2 separate regions of the Homo sapiens genome follow, and region 1 is linked to region 2. A link means that fine-mapping ties the variant in region 2 to the expression of a gene that starts in the linked region. Tissue or cell type: sun-exposed skin. Region 2 holds a variant in brackets; the other region holds the start of a gene. All regions are shown on one strand. Distances are from middle to middle.

What was found. PIP is the estimated chance that this variant, and not a neighbour inherited with it, causes the effect.
Region 1: KLKB1 starts here. The variant in region 2 is fine-mapped to the expression of KLKB1 in sun-exposed skin (GTEx, PIP 0.93).

What each region holds. Positions count from the first base shown.
Region 1 is chr4:186,223,069-186,231,174 of GRCh38, reverse strand. It overlaps KLKB1 (kallikrein B1), which reads right to left and starts at 3,668. Exons shown (of 15, transcript NM_000892.5): 1 at 3,588-3,668; 2 at 2,922-2,980. The coding sequence starts at 2,979. RefSeq lists an enhancer at 4,491-5,161.
Region 2 is chr4:186,272,057-186,280,141 of GRCh38, reverse strand. F11 (coagulation factor XI) reads right to left here. Exons shown (of 15, transcript NM_000128.4): 4 at 6,965-7,071; 5 at 5,867-6,026; 6 at 4,246-4,355; 7 at 3,752-3,911; 8 at 21-130. Among named protein-coding and RNA genes, the nearest start is that of F11, 9.9 kb to the right of the region's middle. The variant G/A (reference allele first, on the strand shown) is at 4,716.

The sequences.
Region 1 (8,106 bases), 49 kb after region 2:
ATTTTTTATTGCCTTTGAGGGAGTGGGCAGCTTAGACCACGTGCATTTTATTAAGCACTGGAGAGTGCCATCTTCTCTGCACTATCCTACCCCCTGGGGATTTGGCCCTGAGCCCCATTATGACCACCCAACCCAACAAGACTGCCTCTCTCCCTCTCTGAGGTGTGGCCAAGATGACCACCTCTCGGGTAAGGTTTATATTTGGAAAGAGCACAGATCTCTTCAAGTGGAAGCTTTTGGGAATACAAGTGTATTGCCTAGATTTCATGTATGCACAAAACATGGAGGAGTTGGTTTAGTGACAATACTAGTTACAAAAAGGCCTATTTTTTTCAGACAGTTGGTGGTTTTGACTGACTCATAATTATCAAGCAGTCACTCCTCTTCCAGCCCCCAGTTCCCATGCAAGGATGCATACAATGGCAGGTCCTGGCCCAGAGCTTCTCATTCTGCAACTGAGCCTCTGTGAACTGCTATGTGACAGTCAGGGAAGGGAGTGACTAGAAAGACACCAATTTTGTTGCTGAATGGAAAGAAACTTCTAGTAGGTGTTCTTGCTTATCCTCATAAGTTGGTGATCATGATGATAATGATGACCATGACAATGATAGCTGTGTCTGTGCTGTATTTTGGAGCCTATGTAAAGTACTATTATATAATTTATCTCATAATGATGGTGGCTTTCAAAGCTTTTACATGGGCCCCCATGTCCATGGACTTTGGGCAGATTATTCAGTCTTGTTTAACAATTCCACAAACAATAATGAGAATTAAAGTACTCAAATTTTAAAGAATTAGATAACAAATATGAAAAGATAATTTACAAAAGAAATAGAAGTGATTAGTAAGTATATGAAAATGGGAAGAATCACAAATATAGCCAAGTTAAAACAACTAGAAGCCATTTTATCCCTGAGATTAGCAAAAATGAAAAATTAAATAACCAGTGTTTGTATACTGGTTTTGATTGCAAATGATGGAAAACCTAGTACAAAGTGGCTTGAAAACAAATGAAATCTATTGGTTCAGGAGCCAAAAAGCCCATGGTGAATCTGGCTTAAAAAGTAACTGCACATTGTGCTCAACTGATAGCATCAGTGGACAATATGTCTCCTTCCACTTGCTCCAGTCTTGGTGTTACCATTACTCTCAAGCTCCACGTAGTAGCAAAATAGTACCAACAACTCAGGCCTGTGTATTGTCTTAAGTTTCAAGTCAAATTGGAAAAAAAAAACATAAGAGTCTTATTTCTAGATGTCTAAAGAAAAGCTTCATTGCAAGACGTTGGCTCTGATTGGGTCACCACAGCCAGGAGGATGTGTGCACTTTCTGGTTCAGCAGAAGAATCAGGGTCACCAGAACCACATGGACCAAAACTGAGAGGCAGTAGCTCTGCAGAAATAAATTAGGACACTGTTTCCAGAAAGATAAATATGTCAGGATGCAAAGCAACAGAAGCCTGTTAGAGTTGGCCTAAGTGGGGTAAATGAGCACTCTTATTAGCTGGTAGAAAAAGTCAACTATGGAGTAAACTTTCTGAAACCTAATTTCATGATACCACACCACAAAACCTTCAAAAATATTCACACCTTTGAATCTAGTATTTTTATTTCAAAAATTGTATTCTACAGAAATAACTGAATAAGAGCATAAGAATGTGCACACAAAAATACCATAAAAAGAGAAGAATAGCAAGCTCCAAAATATATTACTTATTTGCACCAAAAGATAGCTATAAGTGGAAAATGCAAGTCAAAGAGTGTCCACAGTTAATAACTCTTTTTTGTGAAATGTGCAAATAGGTATATGTAGAAAAATATCTGAAAGACTAAATAAAAGATGTTTAACGATGACTGTTTCTGAATTTGGGGACTACATGCAATATGTAGTTTCTAAATTTTTGCTTACTTACATCCCTGATTTTCCTAGCCATAATCATGATTTATTTTGCCAAAAAACAAAACAAAACAAAAAAATGAAAAACCCCCTGTAGTTGGCTGTGGTTCCCAGTGTCTCTGGCTTATGCTCCTTCTCACCTTTCAGTGGGTTTGCACATGGGTTTGTAAATTACGGTTTAGAAGAGAAATCAGGGTTGAGGGACAGACACAGGGGAGTTGTGATTTAGGGGGAATAAAAGTCTTTTTTCCTGGAAAAAAAAAGGTCTCTTTATGAATGTAAACCTTACCTATAGATGTTTATTGTAGCCATACATCTGAGGAAAATTAAATACTCATTGTTGTGTGGCCCTCTTAAGTCACCATAGACCCAGAATCATGCCTTGTGGGGACACAGAGAAAACTCCCTCTGTAATGATTAATGAAATGTCCAGAATCATTTTTATTCTCCAAAAATTAATGAAATTAATAGAGAAATGAGATCTAAATCTGGTGTTGAAAGCTATTCACCTAGAACTATCCAAATGCATGGTTTGCTAAGTTAAATTTAAACCAGTTACTTTCATTTTTGAAATGGTTCCCTAGCGGTCCAGAGTAAAACTATGTATGGTGTTCCTAACAGATACTTGGATTGGACCCAGACACTATAAAATGCCTAGCACTCTTTTGAATTTTCAGATAAAGTTTAATTTTTTACTGTTGATAATAAAAATAGAGGACTAATTTTTTTTTGTTTCAAGTTTTGCTTTGCAGAGTGTCATCTGCGAACAGAAGTTTTTGTTAACACAAGTCCCAAGACATTCCTACTTCTGAGCTCCTTCCTCTGGTCTGCAACATATGTCTACAGCAATATACCTGACAAGTGGTCCTTGTTGTGGAACATTAAATAGACACGTGTCCTGAATCATCAGGGACAATCTCCACCCCCGAAGCTGTATGTTCAATAGCTTTCTCCAGGGGTGGTGCCACTTGCTTGGCTACTCCTGTCTTAGCCTGAATTCCATGTTTTATAGATAATTCACTTACCACAGGAAACTGTAGCAAACAAGGAAATGAAATAAGTTGCTTGCTTGAATAAAATCATTCTAAAAAAGAAAACAATACATAACTCTGCTGGTTTTAGACCACATTTAACATAAATCTTAATTTAAGGTGATTTAGATTTTCTTGTAAATGTCTGAATTGCAAGACAAAGCACACAATTACTGGTATAGAAAACAAGGGTTTTTTTTTGGTACATTTGTGTCTAGGGAGTTGGAAAATTTATAATGCTTCCCAAGATACAAATTGAGACCTCCAGACTACTGTTGTGTTTATTGTTCATTGGCCAACTCTGTGGCTAGTAATGTTGGAAAGGGAATTGGTAGAGAGAGAGTAAACAATTATGAAACCTCTTGATTTGGGCAAAAACAAAATTAATAAATAATGGCAATAATGTCAGTCCAAAAATCCCTAAGTAAAGAAAACCTCTGAAAATATTAAAGCCCATTTAAAAATTTTAAATCAATCAAATATTCTTTCTGATTTAAAATCATCTTACATTTAAATATTTCTACATAAAGGAACATTATCTATACTCTCTACATACTCAGGAAATTAGAATATAAATGATTAATTTTCTCATAAAGTAAAAAATTATACTTAAAAATTATAGTTTATTTGGAAACAATCAGAATAATAAAAATTTGCTACCTGAAAACACAATTGCTTCTTGGAGGTGAGTCTCTTGTCACTTAAAAATGAACGGTCTTCAAGCTGTTCTAATGTGGCACTGCAGGCAATATTTTGCTTGGCTTCAATATTGACTTTGGGTTTCTGCCAACAGTTTCAACTTTTTGTCCTGTCAACATATTCCATGAACATCCTATCCGTGTTCAGCTGTTAAGTATATTAACTATTTCAGGGAGTGATGTCAGCAAGAATAGGAATAGGAGTTTGTCAGAACAGGAGTTTCTAGCGCTCATCCCTTGCAGAAACATCAATTCGAACAAGTATCCATGCACGAAAATAACTTCACTAGAGCTAAGGAATCAGGTGAGAGGTTATGCCACCTGGTTGCAGCACAGAAATAAGAAAAGACACATAGAAGTGTATAGGAAGGACAATTTCACATTACCGGTGTCATCTCACCTTCAAGCCTGGGCAGCACAGTATGGAGAGAGATGCCCTCTTGCATGGAGGAGGGACAGTTAAGATAGAACCTAACTTCACCACAGATCCCAAGCACCAAGCCCACTCCAGTAAACCCCAGCACCAGGATTCAGGCCTGCCACAGGCCAGACCAGCCTCTGTGGCCTCAGCCCCATGCTCACCCCAGACCAGGTCAGCCCCTGGGGCTTCAGGCTCCAAGATGGCCACACAAAACCTAGACTTCAGGCCTGCTCCAGCTCTAGCCTGGCCCCCAAGACTCTATCTAGCCTCCACGTTAGCCCCAGCAACCCCAGGCTCCAAGTTGGCACCCATGGGCCTAGAATCCAGGCCATCCCCTGCAGATCCAGCACCAGGTCAGCCTCCAGAGATCTTGGCTCCATGCTGGGCCATGTGGACCCAGATGCTGGGCTCACCCCAGTGGACCTTGTTCCCAGGACAGCCTGAATAAACTCAGGAACAGGCCTATCCCCATGAACTCAGGTGCCAGGTGATCCCCATGTTAGGCTGGCCCCTGCAGACGCAGGCTTAAGGCTCATTTCAGTGCCAAGTCAGCCCCCAAGGATCCATGCTTCAAGCCAGTCCTTGTGCACAGAATACAGACAACCACAGTGAATGAACCCAGAATCCAGCCCTTCCCACCTTAGAACTCCAGCAGAAATCCTGTGCATAGACCCCAACAGACAGCCCACCAACAATCTCTGGTCAATCTGACTAGTGAATGGCTTTCTCTGCTGAAGCTAGTATGTAAAGACTGAAATAGGTGCCTACTTCAGTGCAAGGCCACACTGATCACAAATAATCGGGGAAACAAGAAACCACCAAAGGAAGGAAATAAAGCAGCAGGAGGTGACCCTAAAGAAATGGAGATCTTTACTGCATGACAAGAGCTAAAAATAATTGCCTTAAGAAAGCTCAATAAGCTACAAAACAATATAGATAGACAGTAAACAAAATCAGGAAAACAATACATGAGCAAAATTAGAAGTTCAACAAAAAGATAGATAGGAACCATAAAAAAGAATGAAACAGAAATTCTGGAGCTAAAGAACAAAATGACTGAATTGAAAAAATTCACAAACAGCTTCAGCAGCAGACTAGATCAAGCAGGAGAAAGAATCAGCATGCTCAGATACAGGTCATTTGAAATTACCCAGTCAGAGTAATAAAAGGAATGATAAAAATTGCAGAAAGCTGACAAGACTTATAGGACACTGTTAAGAAAATTAATATGCATTAGAAGAGTTCCAGAAGAAGTAGAGAAAGAGAAAGTTGCAGAAACTTATTTAAAAAAATAAGAATAGAAAACTCTCAAAATTTGGAGACATAAATGAAATAAACATCCAGATTTATGAAGCCCAAAAGAACTCCAAATAGATTAAATATAAAGAGATCCTCGGCCAGGTGCAGTGGCTCATGCCTGTAATCCCAGCACTTTGGGAGGCCAAGATGGGTGGATCATGAGGTCAGGAGATCGAGACCATCCTGGCTAACACAGTGAAACCCCATCTCTACTAAAAATACAAAAAAAATTTAGCCAGGCGTGGTGGTGGGCACCTGTAGTCTCAGCTACTCCAGAGGCTGAGACAGGAAAATGGTGTGAACCCAGGAGACGGAGCTTGCAGTGAGCCGAGATTGCGCCACTGCACACTGCACTCCAGCCTGGACAACAGAGCTAGACTCCATCTAAAAAAAAAAAAAAAAAAAAGAAATCCTCACCATGACAAAGAGAGAATTTTCAAAGAAGCAAGAGAAAAGCAATTCTTCACATACAAGGGAAGCTTCATAAGATTATTGGTGGATTTCTCAGCAGAAATCATGTAGGCCAAGAGAGAGTGGGATGATATATTCAAAGTATTGAAAGTACAAAACCTGGCAACCAAGAATATAATATCAGGCAAAGCTGTCCTTCAGAAAGGAAGGAGACAAAAAGAATTTCCCAGATGTATTAGTCCAGTTTCACACTGCTGTAAAGATACTACCTGAGACTGGGTAATTTATAAACAAAAGAGGTTTAACTGACTCACAGTTACCCATGGCTGGGGAGGCCTCAGGAAACTTATAATCACGATGGAAGGCAGAGGGGAAGCAGACACCTTCTTCACAAGGTGATACGAGAGAGAGAGTGTGTATGTGCAGGGGAAACTGTCACTTTTAAATCCCTCACTATCATGAGATCACAGCACAGGGGAAACCACCTCCATGATCCAATCACCTCTCACCAGGCCCCTCCCATGTAATCCCATGTGGGGATTACAATTCAAGACGAGATTTGGATGAGGACACAGAGCCAAACCATATCATTCTTCCCCTGGCCTTTCCCAAATCTCATGTCCTTTTCAGATTTCAAAACCAATGATGTCTTTCCAACAGTCCCCCAAAGTCTTAACTCATTCCACAGTAACCCAAAAGTCCGAGTCCAAAGTCTCATTTGAGACAAGGCAAGTCCCTTCCCTCAATGAGCCTTTAAAATAAAAAACAAGTTAGTTACTTCCAAAACACAATGTGGGTACAGGAATTGGGTAAATGTTCCCATTCCAAATGGGAGAAATTGGCCAAAATAAAGGGGCCACAGGTCCCAAGCATATGCAAAACCTAGCAGGGAAGTCATTAAATTTTAAAGCTCCAAAATAATCTCCTTGGAGCCCCTGTCTCACACCCAGGGCATGCTGATGCAAGGTGTGGGCTGTTAAGGCCTTGGGCAGCTCTGTCCCTGTGGCTTTGCAGGGTACAGCCCCTACGGCTGCCTTCATGGGCCGGCACTGAGTGCCTGCAACTTTCCAGTCAGTGGATCTACCATTCTGGCATCTGGAAGATGGGGGAACTCTTTTCACAGCTCCACTGGGCAGTGCTCCAGTGGGGTCTCTGTGTGTGGGCTCCAACCCCACAGTTCACCTCTGCACTGCCCTAATAGAGGTTCTCCATGAGGGCTGGGTCCCTGCAGCAGGCTTCTGCCTGGACAGCCAGGTGTTTCCACACATCCTGTGAAATCTAGGCAGAGGCTCTCAAAGCTCAGCTCTTGTTTTCTGTGAACTCGCAGACCCAAGAGCACGTGGAAGCCACCAAGGCTTGGGGCTTGCACCCTTGAAGCGACAGCCTGAGCTATGGACCCTTTTAGTCACAGCTGGAGCTGGAGTGGCTGGGGCACAGGGCACCAAGTCCCAAGGCTGCACAGAGCAGCAGGGCCCATGAAACCATTTTTCCCTCCTAGGCCTCTGGGCTTGTAATGGGAGGGGCTGCCTTGAAGACCTCTGAAATGCCCTGGAGACATTTCCCCATTGTTTGGCAATTAACATTCAGCTCCTGATTACTTATGTAAATTTCTGCAGCCGGCTTGAATTCCTCCTCAGAAAATTGGTTTTTCTTTTCTACCACATGGTCAGGCTGCAAAATTTCCAAACTTTTATGCTTTGCTTCCCTTTTAAACATAAGTTCCAATTTCATACCATCTCTTTGTGAACGCATATGACTTGACTGTATGCTTTCAGAAAAAGCCAGGTTATATTTGAATGCTTTTCTGCTTAGAAATTTATTCTGACAGATACCCTAAATCATCTCTCTCAAGTTCAAAGCTCCACAGATCTCTAGGGCAGGGGCAAAATGCTGCCAGTCTCTGCTAAAGCATAGCAAGAATGGCCTTTGCTCCAGTTCCCAATAGTTTCTCGTCTCCATCTGAGACCATCTCAGCCTGGACTTCATTGTCAATACGACTATCAGCATTTTGGTCAAAACCATTCAACAAGTCTCTAGGAAGTTTCAAACTTTCCCACATCTTCCTATCTTCTAAGCCCTCCAAACTGTTCCAACCTCTGCCTGTTACCCAGTTTCAAAGTTGCCTTCACATTTTCAGGTTGTCTTTATAGCAGTACCTCACTCTGCCAGTACCAATTCTCTGTATTGTTTATTTTCACACTGCTAAAAGATATCACCTGAGACTGGGTAATTTATAAACAAAAGAGGTCTAAATGACTCACAGTTCCTCATGGCTGGGGAGGCCTCAGGAAACTTACAATTATGGTGGAAGGTGAAGGGGAAGCAGGTACCTTCTTCACAAGGCAGCAGG
Region 2 (8,085 bases):
ATGCAGAACTCTCAGTTTACCTGGGATGCTGTGCCTGCAGCTTTGTAGACTGAAACCAGAAAGAGCTTTGCTCTTTTTAATGCGTGTACTGGGCAATCCACTCTCAGATGTTTTAAGGAGACAAAGATTTCTAACAAAAACAAAAGGGAAGTAGAAATATATCATATCAAACACATAAAAACATTTTTACAGCACCTAGAGAAAGTAAAGTCAGCTCATGCTAGCACTTAGTTGTGAAGATTTTCCTATTTTGAAAGTACTCTTCATAAACCACGGAGTTACACCCATAAACCATGGAGTCACACTCCATGGCCCTTAGGTTGCAGACAAATTTTCTAACTAAATCACCTCCATAAAAATTTTCTGAGCTTGCTCTATTGTCAGTCTTCCTAGTATCTTCCCTTTTCATTTCCTTCCTTTCAACACTCCCAGCCTATCTTAAAGATTCAAGAGTCTTCATGCTACCTAGAAACCTCCTATCCAGGGTTGCAATAGGTTTATAAGGAGATGGGTGAAGTCCGTCGTTTACTCCACACCCTGGAAGCATCTTCCTGGAAAAGAGTGACTTTTCCTAAGTAGACAAAATCACAGTCTAGAGCAAGACTGTCCATAGATCTTTCTGCAGTGATGGAAATATTCTATGCCTGTGCCATCCAATACAGTAACTGCCAACTACATGTGGCTATTGGGCACTTGAAATGTGGCTAACACAGCTGGGAAGGTGAATTTTTAGTTTTATTTAAAATTTTTTTTTTTTTTGAGACATAGTCTTTCTCTTGTCACCCAGGCTGGAGTGCAGTGTCGCGATCTTGGCTCACTGCAACCTCCGCCTCCCGGGTTCAAGTGATTCTCCTGCCTCAGCCTCTTGAGTAGCTGGGATTACAGGCACATGCCACCACACCTGGCTAACTTTTGTATTTTTAGTAGAGACGGGGTTTCACCATGTTGGCCAGGATGGTCTCGTACTCCTGACCTCGTGATTCACCGCCTCGGCCTCCCAAAGTGCTGGGATTACAGGCGTGAGCCACTGCACCCAGCCAGTTTTATTTAATTTTAATAAATTTAAATTTAAATTGCCAAGTTTGGGCTTATAGAAGCCATGTTCCTATCACATACTGTATTAAAGATCAAATGTGTTATTCCTATTCTAGGAATTGGTCAGTAAGGTAATAAGACAAAGAAAAAGAGCAGTGACTAGCACAAAATTACAAGTGACAATGACATCTTTCTTATTTCTAAACTTCCAATGTCCCAAGGCTTGATCTTTGGACCTACTTTCTTCCCTCTCTGCATTTAACCCTTTGATAATTTCACTAGATTTTTAAAAAGTATCAGCTGTATATTGGTGACACCTAAACACAGATGTCCACATAAACCTCTCTTCTGAATTTGACTTCTATTTCCAGTTGCCAATTCAACCCTTTGCCCTAGATGAGCCAAGGGCATTGCTTCTCCTACACTCTGCTGCTTGCGAAATCCTCCACATTCTGTCATTGACATTTCCATCTTTCCAGTTCCTTGGGCCAAAAGTCTTGGTGCTATCACTGACTCCTTCACAATCCGTGGTCCAACCTATCAGCAAATCTTATTGGCTGTCTGCTGATAACACAGATCGATCTGGTCACTTCTCTCTCATCTCCACTCTGGTCCAATAGGCAAAGTTTTTGTCGATTTAGTTCACTAAATGGTATCCCCAGCCTTCAGAACAATGCCTGATACATAATAAGCACCAAACAAATTCTACTAAATTTGTTTAGTAAGTGATGGTAACAGATATATTTTCATGTGACAGACCCGGTGCTTCTGAAATGACAGCCTCACTCAGTGGAAAGTGAGGCTCATGTGATAGGCAAGGCACACAGGGCCTCCCTTGGCTGAGTTGTCTGGAGGACAACTTTTCATCAACAGGAGGCCAATCAGGCAAGTGCTGAGGGCTCTGAGAGTTCCAATTCAGAGATATATACAAGCCAGGTTTTAAAGCTGACTTAATTTTACGGATATTTGTTTGCTTGTTTAAGTGAATGTTGTCAATGAGGAATAGCAAGCTGGGCATAGTGGCTCAGGCTTGTAATCCCTGCACTGTGGGAGACCAAGGCAGGTGGATTGCTTGAGGCCAGGAGTTCTAGACCAGCCTGGCCAACATGGCGAAACTCTGTCTCTACAAAAAAACAAACATTAGCTGGGGGTGGTGGTGCACACCTGTGGTCCCAGCAACTTGGGAGGATGAGACGGGTGGATTGCTTGAGCCTAGGAAGTGGAGGCTGCAGTGGGCTGAGATCACACCCAGTGCAACCAAATCTGAGTGACAGAGCAAGACCCTGTCTCAAATAAATAAATAAATAAAAGAGGGACAGCAACCTTAGCTAGTGTACTTTTGATAATCAAAGAAATTTTCCATGCTGTTTCTGATGTCCTATGTTAATTTCCATTGGTAAGGAAACAGGGACTCAATTCTCAAACCTCCCTCCACCACCACCCTAACCCACTTGATGGAGACATTCATTTCCACCTCTCTCTCTCTCTCCACTTTGGGTTTGACATTTCACTGACATTTTCAGCTCTTTCTGTTCCTGGTTCAATTATTTTAAACAAAGCATTGGACTGAATTGTCTTTTAGTTGTCATGAAATGGAAATGGAATCTCTTCATTTCATTTAGAACTAGACAACTGCCCCTTTGCCAAGGTGGAGACCTCCAGCAATCCCACTACTGGGTACATAGCCAAAGGAAAAGAAAGAAAAAAAAATCATGTCACAAAGATACCTACACTCACATGTTTACTGCAGCACTATTCACAATAACAAAGATATGGATCAACCTAAGAGTCTATCAGCAAATGAATGGATAAAGAAAATGTGGTGTATAGAATATACTATAGAATGTTACTTAGCCATAAAAAAATCATAAAATCATATCTTTTGCAGCAACATGGATAGAACTGGAGGCTATTATCTCAAGTGAAACAACTCAGAAACAGAAAGTCAAATATTGTAGATTCTCACTTTTAAGTGGGAGCTAAATAAAGTGTACACAGGCACAGAGACAGTGGAATGAAAGCTATTGGAGACTCAGAGAGTTGGGAGGATAGAGGAGGGTGAGGCAGGAGAAATTATCTAATGGGAATAATGTATACTATTTGGCTACACTGAAAGCCCAGACTTCACCACTACACAGTATATCCATGTAACACAACTGTACCTGTACCTAAAATTTATTTAGGTGAAGTAATATTTATATTTATTTTAAAATTTACTGGCCGGGCACGGTGGCCCAACCCTGTAATCTCAGCACTTTGGGAGGCCGAGGCAGGTGGATCACCTGAAGTCAGGAGTTTGAGACCAGCCTGGCCAACATGGTGAAACCCCATCTCTACTAAAAATACAAAAAAAATTACTGGGCGTGGTGTCCCATGCCTGTAGTCCCAGCTACTCAGGAGGCTGAGGCAGGAGAATCGCTTGGACCTGGGAGGCGAAGGTTGCAGTGAGCTGAAATCATGCCACCGCACTCCAGCCTGGGCAGCAGAGCGAGACTCCATCTCAAAAAAAAAAAAAAAAAAAAAAGAGTCCTCGGTAATGTTGGGTTTGTGGTAAGTAGGTGGGGAATAGAAAGGGAGAGGGGCTAGAAATTCTTTGCAACTTTTATCCTATACTGACATTTAGAGTAAATTTTTAGTTACTTGGAATTTTTAATGATGGATTTTGATCAGCTATTTTTAGAAGATAACAAATTATCCTTACTTGTTAACTCCTTACCTTTGAGATTCTTTGGGCCATTCCTGGGAAAAGAAGGTAAAAAACAAGCAACCGGGATGATGAGTGCAGATTCGGCCACAGACAAAAGCATCGGGAGCCATGACACTGTCGATGTTGCTGTCTGCAAACACCGTATTAGGGAAAATGTCCCTAATACAAGCTGCGCGACGGAAGAACTATGTCAGGGACTCAATTCACCAGCTATCAGGAAAATTCCGGTCACAGTATGTGTAAATTCCATATTAAAAAATTTAAGTGTATCCCAAGATCTTTTAATTTTTTTTTATTTAGAAGAAAATGGCATGATTATTTTAAACTGGAAATTTAAATAGAGGATCTAACTGTATAGGACATGATGAAATCTATCACATGAAGAAGGTAAAGATCTTTGGGTCCGTTTCATCGTGAGCATAAGCTGGTATCCTGAGTGAGATCTACTGTAATCATCAGCATATTTAATGGTTGAATTACATCATCAAGAAGTCGATAATTACCCAGATTAGAAAGTGCACAGGATTTCAGTGAAAATCCAGACACCACTTTATCGAGCTTCGTTATTCTGGTTGGTGTCCCTGTTTGGGTGTGCTTCAGTAGACAAATGTTACTGAATAAAAAGAAAAAGGAAAAGTGTCTTATTCTTCCAACTGCAAGGAGGAAAAAACATGAGATATTAAGAAAGTCCCCTTTGGAGAGAGGACCTGCGAGACCCCGAAGCATCCATCTGGGAGGCTGAATGGCTGGGCATGGTCCCAGCAGTGTTGCTAAGCACCTGTGAATTGTGTAAGTTTATTTCTTCTTCAGTATAATGACAGCTTGAGAGAGTGACCACATGAAGAAGGAGAGTGCATGAATGAATGACTTCTCAAGCCCTTCTCATTTTTTGTTTTTTTTTATTTGAGACGGAGTCTCACTCTGTTGCCCAGGTTGGAGTGCAATGGCACGATCTTGGCTCACTGCAACCTCC[G/A]CCTCCTGGGTTCAAGCGATTCTCTTGTCTCAGCCTCCCAAGTAGCTGGGATTACAAGCGCCCACCACCGCGCCTGGCTAATTTTTGTATTCTTTTTTAGTAGAGACGGGGTTTCACCATATTGGTCAGGCTGGTGTCGAACTCCTGACCTCAGGTGATCTGCCCGCCTCGGCCTCCCAAAGTGCTGGGATTACAGGTGTGAGCCACCGCGCCTGGCTAAGTCCTTCTTACTTTTAATGACTTAACTTTATCTTGCTTAGAAACCTCCAATTTCTTGTCTTGCAGTTCACATTCTGTTAAGTCTTAGACATAAAAGCTGTCGTCTGAGCTGAGCTAAAGATAAGCCTTACAAGTCAAATCATGAATTTAGGGGTTTGGTGTGTGTGTTTTTCACCACTGTTGTTTTTGAAATAACTCGTTGATGCTTTGTTTGCTTTCTGTTCACTCCTCTTTGTGAATGTGGAGAGCAGAATGTTAAAATCCAATGTTAAAACGCAAGTATTAGTAATTTGAATGTTTTTCACTTTTCTGTTGATTCCAGATAAATGCAGTTTACTATGAAAATCTAAATCATCTCAAATATTTCTGAATATACAAATTAATAATCTATTTCCCTAGTAAATTTTTAAAGATGAGAACACAGATTTGGTTATTAGAGATCAGATAATTTTTAAATCCTTATGTGATAGATTTATCCTTGAAATATTTCAAAATCCAGTATGGAGCAGGATAAGACTTTTTACATGAGTATTTTGTCTTAGGTAAGGAACTGTTATTTAGAGAGAGAGAGAGTAGGTTTTTATTTTTATTCTGTTAGACTGTAACATTTTTTAGACTGGGAAGGGCACTGACAATCATACCAATTGCAGCTGTTTCAAAAGTGCCAATTTAAAAGTGTAGCGCTTTTGAAATTAGCCAAGTATATATATTTTTCTGACAGTGTTATTAAAAGATAGACTCCTTACCATAAATGAAATGCATCCAAATTAGGCTTTAAGTGTATTTTTCATGAAGAAAACTAGGAGTACTATTATAGAAATGTCTTTTAGGGGTTCAAAATAAATTCTGGCATAAAGTTGATGGCAAAAGCTTTTTAGTAAATCACGATTCTGTTTTTCATCGACCACTCGAATGTCCTGGGACTCACTCACCGATGCTCCAGGCTGGGAAACTGCCTTGTGGCGTACGTGAAAAAGTGGCAGTGGACGTCATCCGTGCATCTTTCTTGGCATTCTTGAGCACTCTTGGCAACTGAGCTGTTATAGTTTATGCCCTTCATGTCTAGGTCCACATAAATGTCTTTGTTGCAAGCTGGAAATAAAAGCAGAAGACATGAGTACCTTCCAGATTCTAGGGGCAATGACCTAAGCAACTGTCCCTCCTGACTCATCCTTTCAACTTTTTCACCCACCTTTCCTCAGAGGTCTTTCGTTATATTAATCTGCAAAATTCTTATTCTTGAATGGAAGCAGTAAAAGAATGCCAATGTCCTTCTTACACTGTAACAATTTTAGACTTGTAAATTCACATTTTGATTTTCTGACCTAGCCTCTCTTCTCCCTAACTGCACTGATTATTTCGCTAATTAACTGATTCAAGTATCTATTCACTATTAAGACAAGTGTCACTTCAACCTTTATATTTGCTCCTTTCAATTTGGATTAATACGTTTAATAAAGAATTTCGACTGGGCACCATGGAATCCCGGCACTCTGGAAGGCCGAGGCGGGCAGATCACTTGAGGCCAAGAGTTTGAGACCAGCCTGGGCAATACAGTGAGACCCTGTCTCTAGGAAAAATGAACAAATTAGCTGGGAATGTTGGTGCATGCCTCTGGTCCCAGCTACTCCAGAGGCTAAGGCAGGAAGATCACTTGAACCCAGGAGGTTGAGGCTGGAGTGAGCTGTGATTGCACCACTGCACTCCAGCCTGGACAACAGAGTGAGACCCTGTCTCAAAAAAAAAAAGACTTTCATTTAAGATTTTAGGCTGGGAAATAGAAAGAATATAAATAAATGATGGGAAGTGAGGTAGTAAGATATGTCTTTCTATGAGGTAAAGAGGTTTTTACAGTGTGTTGGAGGGCAGGCATGTATGTATACTAGTTTATACTCTACACTGAAAGAACTTCATTAAGGGGGTTTATTTCCACATAGCAGTGTTTCATTTCATAGCCTTAAAACCACATCCGATGTGGCGATATGTGTACATCACAGCTGGTATTTGTTGATTCTGAGAACATATCTTACCGCTTATTTGGTGTGAGCATTGCTTGAAAGAATACCCAGAAATCGCTGCTGTCCTATTCACTCTTGGCAGTGTTTCTGTAACACTGTCTTTCAGGACACAAGTAAACCTGTTTTTTTAAAAAATACATATTAATGAATAGGAATTTATGTTTTTAAAATAATGGATCTTAAAAGTCAGCACACAGAAAGCCAAAAAGAAGGAAACAAACTACTTTATCTCATGCCAAAACAAATATTTTCTTAGCAAGATTCTGAGTTTGTTTTTTACTTCAATATCCCTACACTTAAGAGACTGCATGTAATACTCCTTTCTAATAGGAACAAACAGGAATGTGTCAACTAGGACCTGTTGGTAAAATGCAACCAAAAATCTGTGTGTTTCTGTTTAGCCTGTTAGCTATACAAAATGATTTTTATATTTTCAAATTGTTACATTTTAAGTGGTGACATAAATACTTAAATAATATCCTTGGCTTTACTGTGGGTTTTGCCCACAAAGCCTAACATATTTACTCTGCGTTATTAAGAAGACATTTGCCAATCCCTGCTCTAGGTTCTGGAATAGTAAATTTTATAAGTTCTGGGTGCTACATAAATGCCTGTGAATGTAGCAATAATAAAGATGTTGAAAACTTAATTCTACAGAAAGGCTTATTATTAAATTTTCAAGCTCAGGATGGGAATACAAATGGTTGGTGGACTGTTTAAAATGTTTTAAACCTGACAAACCACCCAATGCAGTGAGTGACTCTTGGTAAGATTCTGGTTAATTACTATAAATTATATTTGAGGGAAAACTGAAATAATATAAAGGAATTCTTGTTAAATTTCGTATGTCTTTTGTGTAGGATAGTGCATGCTGAAGTATTTAGGGGTAAAGTGTCATGTTTTAAAATTATTTCAAACGGTTAAACATGTATACAAATATAGGTATTGTATATTGTATATTGCTGTACAAATATAGCAAACATTGCGGTTTTGGTGGTGGCAGGGGGATCACTGTACTGTACTTTTTTTCAAATTTTCTTTTTAAATATTTTATTTTTTTCTAATAAAATAGTTGGGAGAAGTTCCAGTTTGTTGAGAAGCACGACAAAAATTAATAATCGATAGAAAAGCAA